Homo sapiens: one gene and its partner. The protein of the gene in region 1 purifies or fractionates together with the protein of each later gene. This does not show direct contact. Each region holds a gene or a part of one and is shown in the gene's direction. Other genes may lie near its edges. The genes, in order: OCRL and PAK2.

Region 1 (7,578 bases):
GTTAGCTGTCCTCCATTTCCAATGACAATAAAACCTGAAGAAGTAGCTTTCTGTTGCATTAAAAATGATTTGAGGTTAATGATCATAGCAATTAATTTCAGAAAAAAATACACAGATATGATCAAGAAATAGAGCATAGAATAGAACCGTGGACCTGAACAAGATCATAAAAGATCATCTGGTTCAGGCCTCTACCTTCAGACAGGGTATTTTCTCCATTCTAATAGATGAGACAACCAAGGCCCAGAAAGGTTGAAAAACTTGCTGAAGTCATGCACTGTACCCACTTGGTGGAATTTAATGCCTTTTGATGATGGGGATGGTATACTGTTTTCATGCTTTAGTTATTAACACTAAGTAAGGTTACAGAGTGTGGGCTTATCAGGCGCTGAATGTGTCTTGTTGAAAGAAGACAAAGTACCTTGGTTTTCCTTTGAAAATTAGAGTTCAGGATAATTTGTGAAATTATTCAAGTATTTTCTGTGTATGATCTTTCTCTAGACTTTGGAGACACAACTGTGGCATTCCATATTATCATACAGGAATTTGAAAATGAATAGTGGATGGTGTATATAATCTACTGACACTTTATTAACCTTTTTAAACCACCAAGGTTTGAGACAGCTGTGCTTCCTAGCTCTTCCCTGTTAAGAGCAGTCCATGTTCTGTCTTTTTATCTTAGGCAGTGCCTTGTGTTGCCTTAATGCCTTAGTACAGGAAAAGCTCCAGTTGGATGTCAGACTTTTTAAAAAGTACATGAATCAGTGCTGCATAATTTCTATATGGCAAGTTTGGAGGCATCTGCTAAAGAATCAGTACACGTGCTGCATTTGGTCCAGAGAGTTAGCAGAGTGCATGATGGACAGTGTTTTGTCTCAAATACCATGTGGATGCTTGGATTTGATATTTGTAACTGGAAAGAAGTAAATGGATGAGCCATTGATAGACATTCTGGCAACTATTAGGAACATGAATATCAAGTGATAGAATCCCAGGGAAAGAAAGGAAGCAAACTGAATGTGGGGAAAAAAAAGAAAGATTTTAAATGGTAACCAACTGTCACACTCCCTTCTCTTTCTTATTCCCTTGGAAAGGCACAGCAGCTTTTAAAGGTCATCAGTGCTTGTTAAAGAACACAATGTTAAGAAGAGACCTCAGCTCGGCTGTAGTGTATGTGGTCTCTGTCAAAGTAGTGACATGCTCCTTTTTTTTTCTTTTAAAGCTACGTGACTGGGGGTTGTGGATGGAATTCACAAGTTGCACAATGTTAGGCAAGAATTTCTTAGTTAAACATACAGAATATATATGACCTCAAGCTAGAGGCGGGGGAGGGAGGAGGATGCAAAAAAATTGGTCATGGTTCTCTCCACTGGGATTTTTATGAAGGGTGCCTTCAGGTGCCTTTACTATTTCAAACATTTTTTCATGTAATTTATATTTGATTACATGAACCTAAGATAACTGAGTTTATTTCCTAGCCATTTCCAATTCACATATAGTGATTGATTTGATTTATGTCACTTCTGGGTTTTTCTCTTACAAAATTCTTTCAGAAGAATATAACAGATAGTAGAAAGATAGATGAAAGGAGTAAAAGCCCCTAGAAATCTTGGCTGAGCTATTCCTAGAAACTGTAACTTCTGGACTCAGACCTTAAACTTTTCGTGGTATTTCTGCCTCTTGGTTAGCTGTATTCAGTTTACTATTTTTGGACCTTAAGGCTTACGAGTTTTAGCACCTTAAGATTAGAACTTCCATCAAGCCTGAAGTATTTACATATGTGGGTCTAATGTTGTGGAGAGTTGTCTTTAATTCCTGAAAACTAAAGAAGCTAATTTAAATCAACATTGAAAACAAACAACAGTATCTGTGGTAAGACCTGAAGGAAGAGTAAGTTAGAAATAAACAAAAACCTAAGTGTAGACCTTGATCTCTCAAACTACTGTATTGACAATTGTAATTTAATAGTCCCCAAGTCACCAGTGCTGTATGGACTCCACTGTGACTGTATCACCGGAGCACTGGTTCTCAGTGTCACCTTTGAAAGGATTTAAACACAAGGCATCCACGTAATAAACATCATAAACGCAAATGAAATGCAGAACAATTAAGTGAAGCATTTAGGAAAGGACATCCTTTAACTATGGGACTCGCTATCAAGTGCCTTCTGACCAGGAGTGTCCCCAGTGAGAAGAAATGGAAAATCTTAAGAGATGAAGATCACATTTTACCTGCATGACCAGAATTTGAAGGACTTTAAGTTATACACCAAAGTCTTTATTCTGAGACCCCTTTGATTCTCATACTTTTCCATCTATTAGGAGAAATCCCTTCTGCAAATGGTTCCTTTGGATGAAGGTGCCAGTGAGAGACCCCTTCAGGTTCCCAAGGAGATCTGGCTTCTAGTAGATCACCTATTCAAATACGCCTGTCACCAGGTAAGTGAGAGTAGACCTTCCCTACAACTTTGGAAGGTGTGTAACTACTATAGGAAATCACAACACCTCACGTCAGCATAGCGCTTTTAACTTTCCCAAGCTACCTGCACACAGTGGCACTGTCAGATCGACTGGGTGGGTGGAAGTGTCCTAGTCACAGATGTCACAGCTGAAGCATGTAAAGGTAAGTTATTTACTAAGACAAAGGCCTAAGTGTAGTTGTGGCAGAGCCAGGACCAAATTAAGAGCACCTGTCTCCTGGCTACCCTCTCATTTTCCCTGGACAGCTGCACACCTGAGTCTATAATGCCTACTTTGGCTATGAGTCATGTAGGCATTAGAGATTGTAAAATCCAAAGCAGATTTTAAACCCATTTTTTAACTTGGTCCTAATTTTTCTTTTAAATCCTAACTAAAATGCCACCCCACCTCATTCGCCCCCAAAAGAGATATTTCTTGGGACTAAATTGAAAGGTAATGTTCTCTTACCTACTGACGAATAATGTAACTTGAAAGCAAGGTTTAGTATGAGCATGCGATTTCCTCCTTCCCCAGCGTTCAGTAGTACTAGCATTTGAATGTGGTTATTCTGTTTGGACTCTGCCTTCTGCTGCTTGTCAAGAGGCTACAAGTAGGCCAGGCATGGTGGCTCATGCCTGTAATCCCAGCATTTTGGGAGGCAGAGACGGGCGCATTGCTTGAGCTCAGGAGTTTGAGACCAGCCTGGGCAACACGGTGAAACCCCATCTCTATAAAAAAAAATTTTAAAGGAGGCTAGAATTAGAACACCTGGTTTCCTGCTCTAGCCATCTAGTCCCCTGCCTTATTAGGTACAGGCTAAAACCTTTGAAAAGATCATTTTCCTATTTGAAATAACATTTCACATGGATTAGAGAAATGCTAAAGGAAAAATGTGTTATTTTCACACCTCCATTTGTAATTATTAACACACATACCACCCTTCCCTTTTGCTTCCTGCTGCTCTTCTGATCCTTGGGTAATCATCATAACCTCAGGAGTGATTATCTTGCCTGTCCCTTCATTCTGACTTCTTTGGTAGGAGGACCTGTTCCAGACCCCTGGAATGCAGGAAGAGCTCCAGCAGATCATTGATTGTCTGGATACCAGCATTCCTGAGACAATCCGTATCCTTTGCGACCAAAGCTTAAGAAGCTGGATGAGTACTTGATCAAACTCTTCTTCGCACCTATATTTGATTTTTGTGGTTCTATATTTATTTTCTTTGTAATATCTTTTATTATAAGATAACCACTGACTATCCACTTGTTTCTCATTTCCTTTCAGGAACTTTTGACCTCTTTCCATATCCAGCTCTTACTAAAAGGAAGCAAGGGGTAGATAACAATGACTTAAAAGCATGGGACATAGAAGCCACAGCACTGGTACTATTCTCCTTCAGGTGATCAGTCACTCCTGCCACCACACGTACTGTTGACAGGGCAGGGAGAAGGATGGGAAACATGGGCACCTGGTTTATAGGACTGCTCCAGTGTCAACTGTCACTCTGCAGGCTATATTCCCCTGACCCTGAAGCTGGGCCAAAGCTGCCAAGAGTCTTTGACCAATTCTGTAACAACTCACCTGCAGGGCACTTGAATCAATAAAATATCAAACCCCCATTAGGATCAATGTGCCCTGAATAAGAGGAGGGAAACAGTCCCTGTAGGAGCTTGAGGAAAGGAGCTCGTCGGGGCTCTGTGTGGCCTTTCTCCTGGAGCTCCTTTCCCTTGACTTAAGTTGATTCAGCTGGCAGCAACCACTCTGTGGCTGAAGCACTGCTCATTTTCTTGGAAGCCCTGCCAGAGCCAGTCATCTGTTACGAGCTGTATCAGCGATGTCTTGACTCTGCTTATGATCCCCGGATCTGCCGACAGGTGGGTTCTACTGACCTGGGGATGTGTTTGACGCAGATTGCCCCATAGAGAAGTCGTCAGTTTTACAGAGCCAGATAGGCAGCCAGCTGTCTGGTAGGATGGGTCTGCATCTGTTATTAATGGCAGGACACCAACATTGAGAGTTGCTACCCTTAAATTTTAGGTTGTGTTGTTTCCTACGATATTTGCCACCTTTTTCCCATTGGCCTATTTCTGTTTACAGAAAACATAGTGGGGTGGATCCCTCTACTCTGGGGTAAATTGGTGAAGCTGATTGTACGTGGAATTCTGGCTGACATTACCAGGAAGGATGGGTGACACTTGGGAGCCTTTCTTCTTTTTCTCTTCTTGGTGTGTGTTTTTAATCCTGAAATGATTTTAATGCACAGTAGCTGACAGTACCTGTGAATTGGACTAGTGAGTATTGAGAGGAGTCCCCATCCATGCTAAGTGACATTGTAAAGAAAACCATTCAAACAAAAAAGAACAGAAAACCATTCAGCTTGGTAGGTGCCGTGGCTACATGCCTACGGAAATGGGAAAAGAACAGATGAACACTGACCTATTGTGAGGCAGGGTGTGCGTATGAATGTGTGATGACCACGTGGCCTGGTCATTGAGTGGACAGGGACCAAACAGCACGGCCACTCTTACTTTGAAGTTATAATTTGGAAGGTATTGTGTTGGCCATGAGGAGATAATAGAAGTTAGACAGATGAAATGGGTCCTGCAAGGGTTGGATTATAGACTACTATTACAGCAGCTGTAAGTTCCTCTTACTTTCATCTTCCACCTGTTTTTCTCACTGCCTGCCCCTATTTTTAAAAACAGGTGATCTCCCAGCTTCCGAGATGCCATAGAAATGTTTTCCGTTACTTGATGGCATTCCTTCGAGAACTCTTAAAATTCTCTGAATACAATAGCGTCAATGCCAACATGATCGGTAAGAGTGCTTCATGCAACACGGGGCGTTTGTTGAGAATACTCTTAGTGCATTGTATCCAGTATATACCTTACTGCATATGCAGGCACATGGCAGTCAATAGTCCTTGTCCCCAGGCCCTCCAGCCCTGAGGTTTTGCTTAGGTTATGTCTGACAGAAGTTTCCGCTTGTCTTTCTCTCGTCTTGTAGCTACTCTCTTCACTAGTCTTCTCCTGAGGCCTCCACCCAACCTTATGGCAAGACAGACTCCAAGTGACCGCCAGCGTGCTATTCAGTTCCTTCTGGGCTTTCTGCTTGGGAGCGAAGAAGACTAAGGCTTTTACTGTTCTCTGATATTCTAGAAGCAGACGATCTCGGGCTCCAAGTATTTCAGAATGATTTAAAAAGTCATGCCACAGGAAGGGTCTATTGCAGAATTTCAAGTTCTGTTTATAGTAAAAAGGAAGAGCGTTTCCTAATCCCTCCTTTACCATATCCTACACAGAAAAATACTTTTAGACTTATATTGCCAAGCCAAAGTTACCATATTTTGGTGTTTTTGTGTTTTCTCTTTATAAGGCAAAAAGATCTGTATTTACACTCCTTCACCTAGGGATGTGTTTGTTGCCCTCCTACCCAATTGTCATGATTGTCCTTAGTACCCTAGGCCTAGATTCTGAGATCTTCCCATTCTAGGCCTACAAGCACTACTTGCTGTAGCTGAGACTTGTCTAGAGTCCTTTGTTTTGCACTTTTGACCCACCCCTTCCTGGATCACTCCTTTGCACTCCACTCCCCTCGTTCTGTCACTTTGAACGAAGTCTGAGTGAGGCTAGTGACTCCTTGGGTGTCCTCAACAGTGAATTCACTGTCTGCGTGCAGTTATTACATGCATTTGTGCATTTCTACTACAATGGCATCTTTATGTCTCTGTAACATTGGCCTTTTCATGGCTCCACACTGGGTGGAACCATATTCTCTTAGATCACATTTAGTAGCATAACTGTAGGGACTATTAGAGATGGCATCTCATCGATGAGAGAGAATCACAATCAGAATGGAAGCACTTTGAGTATCTGAAGAGTGAGAGCATTCATGTTTGACAGGTCCTGCTTCCCACTATCCTTTTCCTGTTATTATTCAAATTTTACACAAGGACTAATCCTGGGTGTCTCTGAGACCCATCTCCTGCCTAGACATCCACCTCCAGAGCAACACTGGCCCCACAGTAAAAGAGGAAGTCTTGTACCTCAGGCAGGCCCATCTAGAGCTATTGCTCCTTCCCACAGCAAAGGTATTGTGGATGACCCTTAGAATCCATTCTCTGGTCTTCTGAAATACCAAGGGCAGATGTCACCTCCTTCCTCAGCAGGACTGACTCTGGGCTCTACAACCAGCTCCTTCACATAAAGGGTTTAGAGACTCCCCTTGGCTCCCAGTCACCATATCCAGTGTTGTGTAAAGAGACTGGCCAACAGGACCAACCAAGCACCTTACCTCTCCCATACAAGATGACCCTCTGAGCTTTTCATTTATTCAAGCTCTGTGGTACAGCCTTTTTTTAAAATAAATTAATCTATATTGGTTGACAAACAAGCCACCAACCACTGACTGCAAAACTGCCTGATGCAGTTGGGTTCCTCCTGGTTTTCTTTTGTTACAACCACCCTTGCCTGTTTACATTAATTGCAAGGAGCATAACGTACAGGCTGTATGTACAATCCTGGGCATTGACTCTGTGACATTTCTAGCATATCCAAGGCACCACCAGTGATTTCTCCTGTTTCTTGGTGGGGGTGGGGGGGAAGGTACGTATTCTGCAATATGGCTAAACCCTTTCCTGATTGAGAGTTAAAGCAATAGGAGTCAAGTTACTGGTGCCACAGATCTGGAGGTATGATAGGTCAGGGGCTAGGTGTTGAACTTAGTTAATGGAAGACTGAGAGCAGAACAGGTTTGTCATCTCCGCAAGGCCAGAAAGTGATCACAAAAAGAGGCAGATGATAGACACTGGGGTAGGGTCATACCACAGGGAAATACCTTTCCTGGGCTTGTTTTCTAGCATATCACTGACCTGGGATCTTTGGGTGATCAAGGGTGTGGTTAGTGGAGGCTCTGTGCTGCACGTATGCAGTATCCTATCTCTTTCTACATCAGATCAAAACACTAAGTTGGTGTACTGCCTCGACCTTTTTTCAGCTCATCCTGGAACATATACAGAGTTGAGAGTTTTAGACAATCTCTAGGTAGAGGAGACAAGATGTAGACCCAGACAGAAGAAATCTGCTTCCCTACCATGGCTATTCCAGCACCCCAACCTGTA
Region 2 (8,811 bases), on another chromosome or scaffold:
AATACAATTCACCCATTTTAAATATATAATTCACTGATTTTTACTAAATTTATAGTTTCATGTAGATTTCAGATTTCTTACCTTGGTCTTATATAAATTCTTATTTGACTACTTGCGTGTTCATTTTTCTCAAGAGTTAATTCAACTTGAAATCAGTTTAAGAACATTTCACTTTCTCTGCTTTTTTTTTTTCCTTTTATCATATAAAAGTGCTGTTTCTTGAATTGCTAATGTTATGTTTTGTTTCATATTCAGAGAAAGATGGCTTTCCTTCTGGAACACCAGCAGTAAGTTAATTATATTATTTCTTGTATCTCTTGTTCTAATTTAGGTTACCCAAGACAAATCTCAGTTTTTATTTTGCTTTCTAAAATAAATTACAGCCATCAGAGGTAAATAACTACTCAATAGGTGTTTTTAGCTAGCCACCTGATTAGTTGAAGAAGCCGTATTAAATAGAAATTCCTTGATGTGATACTTAATGTAACTAAAATTTATAATGACCTTCAGAACAGTTTAGTTAGTTTTGGTAATGTTAACATATACAAACGTGAACACAAAGAACTTGCTAGCATATATTTTCCTCTCCATCCCTCAGTTTTCCTTCTGGTACTATTTTACTGAATATAGACTGTGGAAAGGTGCTGAACAGTTGAACCTTGTCAGTCTTCAGAGTCATCTGAAACTTAAGTTATCGCATAAACACAGTCAGTTTTTGGAAACAGTCGTTTTATTTGCAGTTTCTCAATTGGGAGGAAACAGTCTCCTGGAGTTTTATTTTTTTATATTTTATTTTATTTTATTTATTTATTTATTTTATTTTTATTTTTTTTGAGTTAGAGTCTCGCTCTGTCGCCCAGGCTGGAGTGCAGTGGCGCAATCTTGGCTCACTGCACGCACCGTCTTCTGGGTTCACTCCATTCTCCTGCCTCAGCCTCCCGAGTAGCTGGGACTACAGGCGCCTGCCACCACGACCAGCTAATTTTTTGTGTTTTTAGTAGAGACGGGGTTTTACCGTGTTAGCCAGGATGGTCTTGATCTCCTGACCTTGTGATCCACCCACCTCGGCCTCCCAAAGTGCTGGGATTACAGACGTGAGCCACCATGCCCGGCCCCAAATCTGACTGTTTTAAATGTCACCAGATGTCTCTGACATAACAAAGCCCAGAGGATCTTTGATTTTGGTCTTAACAAGTAACATTGTTTACTTTCAGGACATTGTATATGTATGCTTAGGGTAACTTTATTAAAATATTTGGTACTCACCATATATATATATTTCATAAACTTTTTCATGATTCATAGAATCGCCTTATTATGTTAGATTATAATTCTATTGAGTTATCTAAGAGCTAATGAGATTTAGTGGTTTTGAAATGAGCTATCAAAGAAGCAAACTTTTTGAAGTACGTTCATAAAGGGCGATAGTCGCATTTAAGCCTATTGGACTTGTTTTCCTTACTTTGCTCATCATCAATGCAGCTGAATGCCAAGGGAACAGAAGCACCCGCAGTAGTGACAGAGGAGGAGGATGATGATGAAGAGACTGCTCCTCCCGTTATTGCCCCGCGACCGGATCATACGAAATCAGTGAGTCTCCATCGGTGATCTAGGCTGTGTGTGTGCACGTGTGTTTTAAAAAATAGCAGAGTTTGTATTTGACTTTCAGTGATTGCTTTTAAAAAGCCCTCAAGTTTAAAATCGTTTAGTATGGGGAAATTTAACCAAGAAATCTGTACCCAAAGACCACTCACCTAAAACTAGTTTTCTGAAGATTAAAATGTGATGTCTTTAAAAGTTAACGCACTCACCTCACTGGGCTTTTTTCTTTGTATAGTACACCTTTTCCAGAGGGTTCGTCTATTTCCCAAGCTTTCTCTGTTTATCTCAATGTAGATGACGACTAAATCTAAAACTTAGAGCTTTCCTCTTACCCAGATTATGCATTTTAATCTCCCATTTTACACTACTCTCAGCGCCTTGCTGTCATTCAAAAGGCAGTTGAGAATGAAATTCCTAACCAGGTAAGGGAGAATTTTAAAAATGATGACCTTAAATGGAGCCAGGAAGAGAGGAATGACTGCGGTTACCATTCTGCTCCCTTCAGTACTGCAGGTAGAGTGTGCGGAAGGTGCTGTGCCGTGGAATGGGCTGTGCTCCTGGCACAGCGGGCAGGCAGAGCTCAGGAGACAGCCTCTGGATGCCAAGCTGATGGCAGAGGACTCCGTTTTCTTTAGCCTTTCAATCTGGCTGTTTGAAATGGGTGGTAGGCATTATAATTGTGTAAAAACTTTCATGGGAATTAATAATAGTTATTTCAACATCAAGGTTTCTGTTCTTTTGCATTTTACTTACCATTTGTAGTAAAAACATGATTTTTAAACCGTGCTTTTTGATACATTGTTATACCATTTTAGACCTGGTCACACTTAAATTTCATTCATGGACCTGCTGTTTTACTAGACAGCTTTTCAAATATATTCATGCTATGCCAAAGAAAAATGTTTCACATTTATTCTTCTTAGTTACACATCTTTTATATCTGAAAATAGTGTTCTCATTATTTAGAACAATGGAAAAGACTACTTAGTTCAGGTTAAAAATCAAAGAACTGAATTAGTTTGCCAGGAAGAATATCTGAAAACATTATTCCTCAAACCTTGGTAATGAACTGTGTCTCCACAGATTTACACACGGTCTGTAATTGACCCTGTTCCTGCACCAGTTGGTGATTCACATGTTGATGGTGCTGCCAAGTCTTTAGACAAACAGAAAAAGAAGACTAAGATGACAGATGAAGAGATTATGGAGAAATTAAGTATGTTATCTACATTTTACATCATTGTTAAATTGTTCACGGCTCTTAAAACATTTGGCCCAGATGGATTTTAACTTACACTTTACATTGTGACTTAAAGTATAAAGAATAAATTGTTTCCTTATAGCAACAGTAGCTTCAATTACAATCTGGTGATGTCACCAGGTTCACCCCTAAATCCCAGCACTAGGTCAGGAGATCAAGACCAGCCTGGCCAACATGGTGAAACCCCGTCTCTACTAAAAATACAAAAATTAGCTGGATGTGCTGGCATGTGCCTGTAATCCCAGCTACTTGGAGGCTGAGGCAAGAGAATCACTTGAACCCAGGAGGTGGAGGTTGCAGTGAGCCAAGATTGCGTCGTTGGGCTGGGCGCGGTGGCTCACGCCTGTAATCCCAGCACTTTGGGAGGCCGAGGTGGGCGGATCACAAGGTCAGGAGATCGAGACCATCCTGGCCAGTATGGTGAAACCCCTCCTCTACTAAAAATACAAAAATCAGCTGGGCATGGTGGCATGTGCCTGTAGTACCAGCTGCTTGGGAGGCTGAGGCAAGAGAATCACTTGAACCCGGGAGGCGGAGGTTATAGTGAGCCGAGATCGCGCCACTGCACTCCAGCCTGGCAACAGTGAGACTCCATCTCAAAAAAAAAAAAAAAAAAGCGAACCGGCCGGGCACTGTGGCTCATGCCTATAATCCCAGCACTTTGGGAGACCAAGGTGGGTGGATCACTTGAGGTCAGGAGCAAGACTAGCCTGGCCAATGTGGCAAAACCCCATCTCTACTAAAAACAAAAATTAGCAAGGTGTCATGGCAGGTGCCTGTAATCCCAGCTACTTGGGGAGCTAAGGCAGGAGAATCACTTGAACCTGGGAGGCGGAGATTGCAGTGAGCCGAGATCGTGCCACTGCACTCCAGCCTGGGCGAAAGAGCGAGACTCAGTCTCAAAAAATAATAATAAATAAAATTAACAATTAAAGAATGCTAATCTAGAGGGTTCAAGGAAAAATACTGTATGGAAGGATTGTTTTAAACATAAAGCCTGGGCATAGTGGCTCAAACCTATAATCTCGGTACGTTGGCTGGCCAAGATAGGAGGATAGCTGGAGTCCAGGAGTTCAAGGCCGAACTATACAACTTAGACCCCGACTCCACCCCCTCAAAAAAAAAAGAAAAAAAGAAAATTAACGAGACCTGGTGGTGCATGTCTGTAGTCCCAGCTGACTGGGAGCCTGAGGCAGGAGGATTGCTTGAGCCCGTGAGTTCAAGGCTGTAGTGAGCTGTGATTGCGCCACTGCACTCCAGCCTGGGTGACAGAGTGAGACCCTGTCTCTAAAAAATAAACAAATGTTTATATGCCCCATGTTTATTTGGTTTTGATTTCTCAGTGCTTTCAAGTATAAACCTGGCTCTTACTCTGTTATTATTATTATCTTTTTTTTTTTTTTTTTTTGAGACAGAGTCTCGCTCTGTCACCCAGGCTGGAGTGCAGTGGCGTGGCTCACTGCAATCTCTGCCTCTCCAGTTCAAGCGTTTCTTCTGCCTCAGCCTCCCGAGTAGCTGGGGCTACAGGTGTGCGCCACCACACCCCGCTAATTTTTGTAGTTTTAGTAGAGATGGGGTTTCACCATGTTGGCTGGGCTGGTCTCAAACTCCTGACCTCAGGCATGAGTCACCACACCTGGCCTGCTCTGTTACTCTATGAGCATATAAGAATTATTTTAGGAGAGCTGCTACTTAAAAAAAAAAAAAAAATTAACTAGAATCCTAATTGTCATCATTTAGTTGTGACCTTTAGCTGTCACATCCCCAGTCTTTTTGGTATCTTTTTGTTCTTAGCCTCTTATTATTGATCCTGTTTCTTTGCTTGTTGACTTGAGGTTGGGTACCTACATAAAACTATTTATGTCAGTTTCCTTGATATGGTCCTGTCCTTTTTTACCTTGAGCAAGTGAAAGTTTAATGTGGTTTTTCTTACTAGTAATAAGAATATAAGTTAGGATTTTATGTCCAACTTCCTAATTTTAAAACCTCTTTCTTGTGACTTTGAACTTTCCTAAAACAAACATATGATTAGTTTATGTCAGAGCATAGTAATTTTTATGGTAATAAGTGGTTTTCTAAATATATTGAAAGATGAAATGTATACTGGAAGAGTCAGAAAGACCATTTAGGGTTTAGATAGCCTTTATTATTTATAATACTAAGTAGTCTCAAACTTACCTATTAATAGATATATTCAAATATATCTATTTCTATATTCAAATATATCTATTTTATATTCAAATATGTCTATTTTCTTGAGATTACCTGATTCTAAAGCTGAACATCTGAGAACCTAATTAATCTCTGACAAACTGGTACAGTCTTTTCAAAATGTGACCATTATTGAGCAAATGATTAGTTAGGAGGTCTAACCTAATGGAAATAATGTGTCTTCTTGTTTCTGTTACTTTTAAACTTTTAATGTGTCTTGTTTCTGATACTTTTAAACTTTTATTATGTATTTAAGTTTCTTTAGTGTTTTGTGTTTGAAACCTGTTATTTTTGGAACTTAGTATTATGTTTGAAAATCACTTATAAAAACAGTGGAGTTCATTAAAAGGAATAATAATATCACAATCAATTTACACTTAAAATGCTTGACTGAGCTTCCAGCTTTTTGTTTATTCTAGGAACTATCGTGAGCATAGGTGACCCTAAGAAAAAATATACAAGATATGAAAAAATTGGACAAGGGTAAGTATTTGTGACTGTATTACGATAATATTCAGTATTCAGTATTTCCTGGCTTTATAGCATGATGTTTATTTTGCCTGCCGACATCAAGTACTTATATAGTATTCTGTGAGTGGTACCCTTGGGGGATTTGTGTAAATAAATAATGCAGTTATTTGTAGATGCTGTTAAAAAACTGTACTAGTTGTTAGCAATGACTGTGTATCATTATTTTTTCTTAAGTGTCATTTCCCATCTGTGATAATTAGAGGGAAGAATTGCCCATAAAATATATTTAAAAGACAATAAGAATATTTACTGCATGACTATAAGCAATAAAAAATGCATTTAAATCATGTCATTGTGTATTGACTTTTGAGTCTACTGATCTTCTGATTTTGTTGTGTAATTTGTATTTTTAAAGTATACTAACTAAACTCCTTTTTTCTGTTGCTTGGAAGCAAATAAACACCTAAATTTTTAATGTTATTAAACTCTGGAAAGCATTCTGTGAATTTAGAGTGAGGGCTTAAGCCATTTTTGAAAACTTCCATATGAATTCCTTCCTCCCTTCCTTCCCTTCCCTCCCTCCCTTCCCTTCCCTTCCTTCCCTCCCTCCCCTCCCTCCCTTCCTTCCCTTCCCTCCCTTCCCTCCCTTCCCTCCCTCCCTTCCTTCCCTTCCTTTCCTTCCTTCCCTTCCCTCCCTTCCCTCCCTTCCTTCCCTCCCTTCCCTTCCTTCTCTTCCTTCCTTCCCTTTTTTTTTTTTTTTTTTTTTGGCGGAGTCTGTCACTCAGGCTGGAGTGCAGTGACATAATCTCAGCTCACTGCAACCTCTGCCTCCCGGGTTCAAACGATTCTTCTGCCTCAGCCTCCCAAAGTGTTGGGATTACAGGTGTGAGCCACTGCACCAGGCCTGAATTTCTTCCTAACAGCTAAATTCAATTGCAGCACTGGTTTTATGAAAGAGAATTGAAGATTATCTTACTATTTTTGAGCATGAATGAACAAGCAATACCTATCCATATGGATGACCATCACAAATCCAGTGTTGAGTCACAAAAGCAAGTTGCAGAATAATATGTGAAATGAAACTATATGACGTTTAAAAATTAGACAAAGTATATTTTATAGGGATACATATCTGCGTCCTTTGTAGTTAAAAGTATGGAGAAATGCATGAAAATGATGAACACCAAATACAGGATAAACACCAAATACAGATCACCTTTGGGAGGAAGGAGACTGCTGTCGGAAAGGGCTTATGGGAATCTTCAAATTATTTACAGTTATTTGTATCTTAATCAGGGAAGTGTATCCTTAAGTATATGTTATATAATTTTTTTCCTGCTCTTTTTTCCCTACATTTTTGTAGGTCTGAAATATTTCACACATAAGTTTTGCCGTAAGGATTGTCTCTTTCTTCCCCCACCCCCTTTCCTCAGGTTTTTGCTTTTACTCCTTTTAAGCACGTTAGGTCATCCTGTTCTTTAATTCTTTTTCAATTGCTTGAAGTGTAAAGTCTTTGGATATTGCAAATGCTAGTGATTTATCAACCTTAAATCTGGTTGTGTGTTTTCTCCCTCTAGGGCTTCTGGTACAGTTTTCACTGCTACTGACGTTGCACTGGGACAGGAGGTAGTTACTTTGTTGTAATCCTGGGTGTTACCATTATTTTGTCATATAGGTGGAAACTAGATGAAGCTGGGAAGAAGCAATAGGAACCTCTTTTAAGTTGAGCCCGTTGTAAGAATCGCTCTACGTATGTTTATAGCACTTCTGTCAGTAAGGCGGGGAAGGACTTATGAGTTCAATGTCATAAATAAGCAAATACTTAAAAATTGTTTCCTCAGCTTGAAGTGAAAAGAGGATTAATTCTTAGTATTGGACTGACTGTGGGTGTATTAATCAACTTCAAGATAAATCTAAAACTAGGTTCTAAACATTACAAAGCATTGTGCACAGGCAGTGTGCAAGGCAAGGTGCCACCTGGGAGTAATAGCATGGTGTAATACAGTACACGTACCGTGAGTTATCAACTGCTTGGGGTTTGTAATTTTCTAAGAGAATTCCTAAACCTGGTTTTTTTCAATCCTGTTTTCATTATAGGTTGCTATCAAACAAATTAATTTACAGAAACAGCCAAAGAAGGAACTGATCATTAACGAGATTCTGGTGATGAAAGAATTGAAAAATCCCAACATCGTTAACTTTTTGGACAGGTAAGTATGACTATTCCTTAAACACCGGGAGAAAATGTAGAAATTTTAAGTCTCATGGTTTCGGGGGTGGGGCTGGCCACTTTGGAATAAACTGTCAGTGCCGAGAAATAAGATGGAAGAAAGAAGAGGAGAGGTAAAAATAGCACAGTGCAGTTTTAGAAGGTCCTTCTCTGCAAGGACATCACTTGGCAGGTGAGAGAAGGCAGTTAATTGAAGGCCATAGCTGGTGGTGTTTATACTCATCGCAAACGACCTGAAGCGAACACATGAATGGTTGGCTGTGATTCGTGTCTTGACTGACAGAGGGGACTGGTTACATGGTTTTTAAACTTGTGGATCAATTTTTATTTCAAATGCTATCCTTCATGGACAAATTTATATGTCTATCAAAACCTCATTTAGTTGAGGAATTAATGTTAAATAACAGACCAAAAAGCAGAATAGAAAATGATGCATATTGGCTGGGTGCAGTGGCTCACACCTGTAATCCCAGCTACTCAGGAGGCTGAGGCAGGAGAATTGCTTGAACCCAGGAGGTGGAGGTTGCAGTGAGCCGAGATCGCACCACTGCACTCCAGCCTGGGCAATGGAATGAGACTCCATCTCAAAAAAAAAAAAAAAGAAAAGAAAATGATGTATATTACTACAACTGCATGAGAGAAGATTCGTTGAAAATGATAACAGTGGTTTTATTGAAGATAGAGGTGATTATAGGTGATTTTCTTCCATATTTAAATTTGTTTAGAATGAGGAAAAAATAATGTTTAGAGACTTTATCCCTAGTTATGGAGAACATGTTCATAGAAATAAACTTTTCAGGCTAGGCACGGTAGCTCACGCCTGTAATCCCAGCACTTTGGGAGGCCGAGGCAGGTGGATCACCAGGTCATGAGATCGAGACCATCCTGGCCAACGTGGTGAAACCCTGTCTCTACTAAAAATACAAAAATTAGCTGGGCATGGTGCCGCACACCTGTAGTCCCAGCTCCTCAGGAGGCTGAGGCAGGAGAATTGCTTGAACCCAAGAGGTGGAGGCTGCAGTGAGCCGAGATCGCG

What was found.
Region 2: the proteins of OCRL (region 1) and PAK2 purify together in Homo sapiens (affinity purification with mass spectrometry; 2 studies listed by BioGRID and IntAct, with this or other methods). This does not show direct contact.

Annotation. Positions count from the first base shown.
Region 1 is NC_000023.11:129,584,681-129,592,258, forward strand, and holds part of OCRL (inositol polyphosphate 5-phosphatase OCRL), read left to right. Parts: intron 1-2,321; coding exon 2,322-2,438; intron 2,439-3,498; coding exon 3,499-3,583; intron 3,584-4,205; coding exon 4,206-4,333; intron 4,334-5,164; coding exon 5,165-5,276; intron 5,277-5,465; coding exon 5,466-5,590; 3' UTR 5,591-7,578. UniProt on the Homo sapiens protein: Catalyzes the hydrolysis of the 5-position phosphate of phosphatidylinositol 4,5-bisphosphate (PtdIns(4,5)P2) and phosphatidylinositol-3,4,5-bisphosphate (PtdIns(3,4,5)P3), with the greatest catalytic activity towards PtdIns(4,5)P2.
Region 2 is NC_000003.12:196,805,097-196,813,907, forward strand, and holds part of PAK2 (serine/threonine-protein kinase PAK 2), read left to right. Parts: intron 1-255; coding exon 256-287; intron 288-1,482; coding exon 1,483-1,590; intron 1,591-2,685; coding exon 2,686-2,818; intron 2,819-5,493; coding exon 5,494-5,557; intron 5,558-7,122; coding exon 7,123-7,171; intron 7,172-7,642; coding exon 7,643-7,755; intron 7,756-8,811. UniProt on the Homo sapiens protein: Serine/threonine protein kinase that plays a role in a variety of different signaling pathways including cytoskeleton regulation, cell motility, cell cycle progression, apoptosis or proliferation.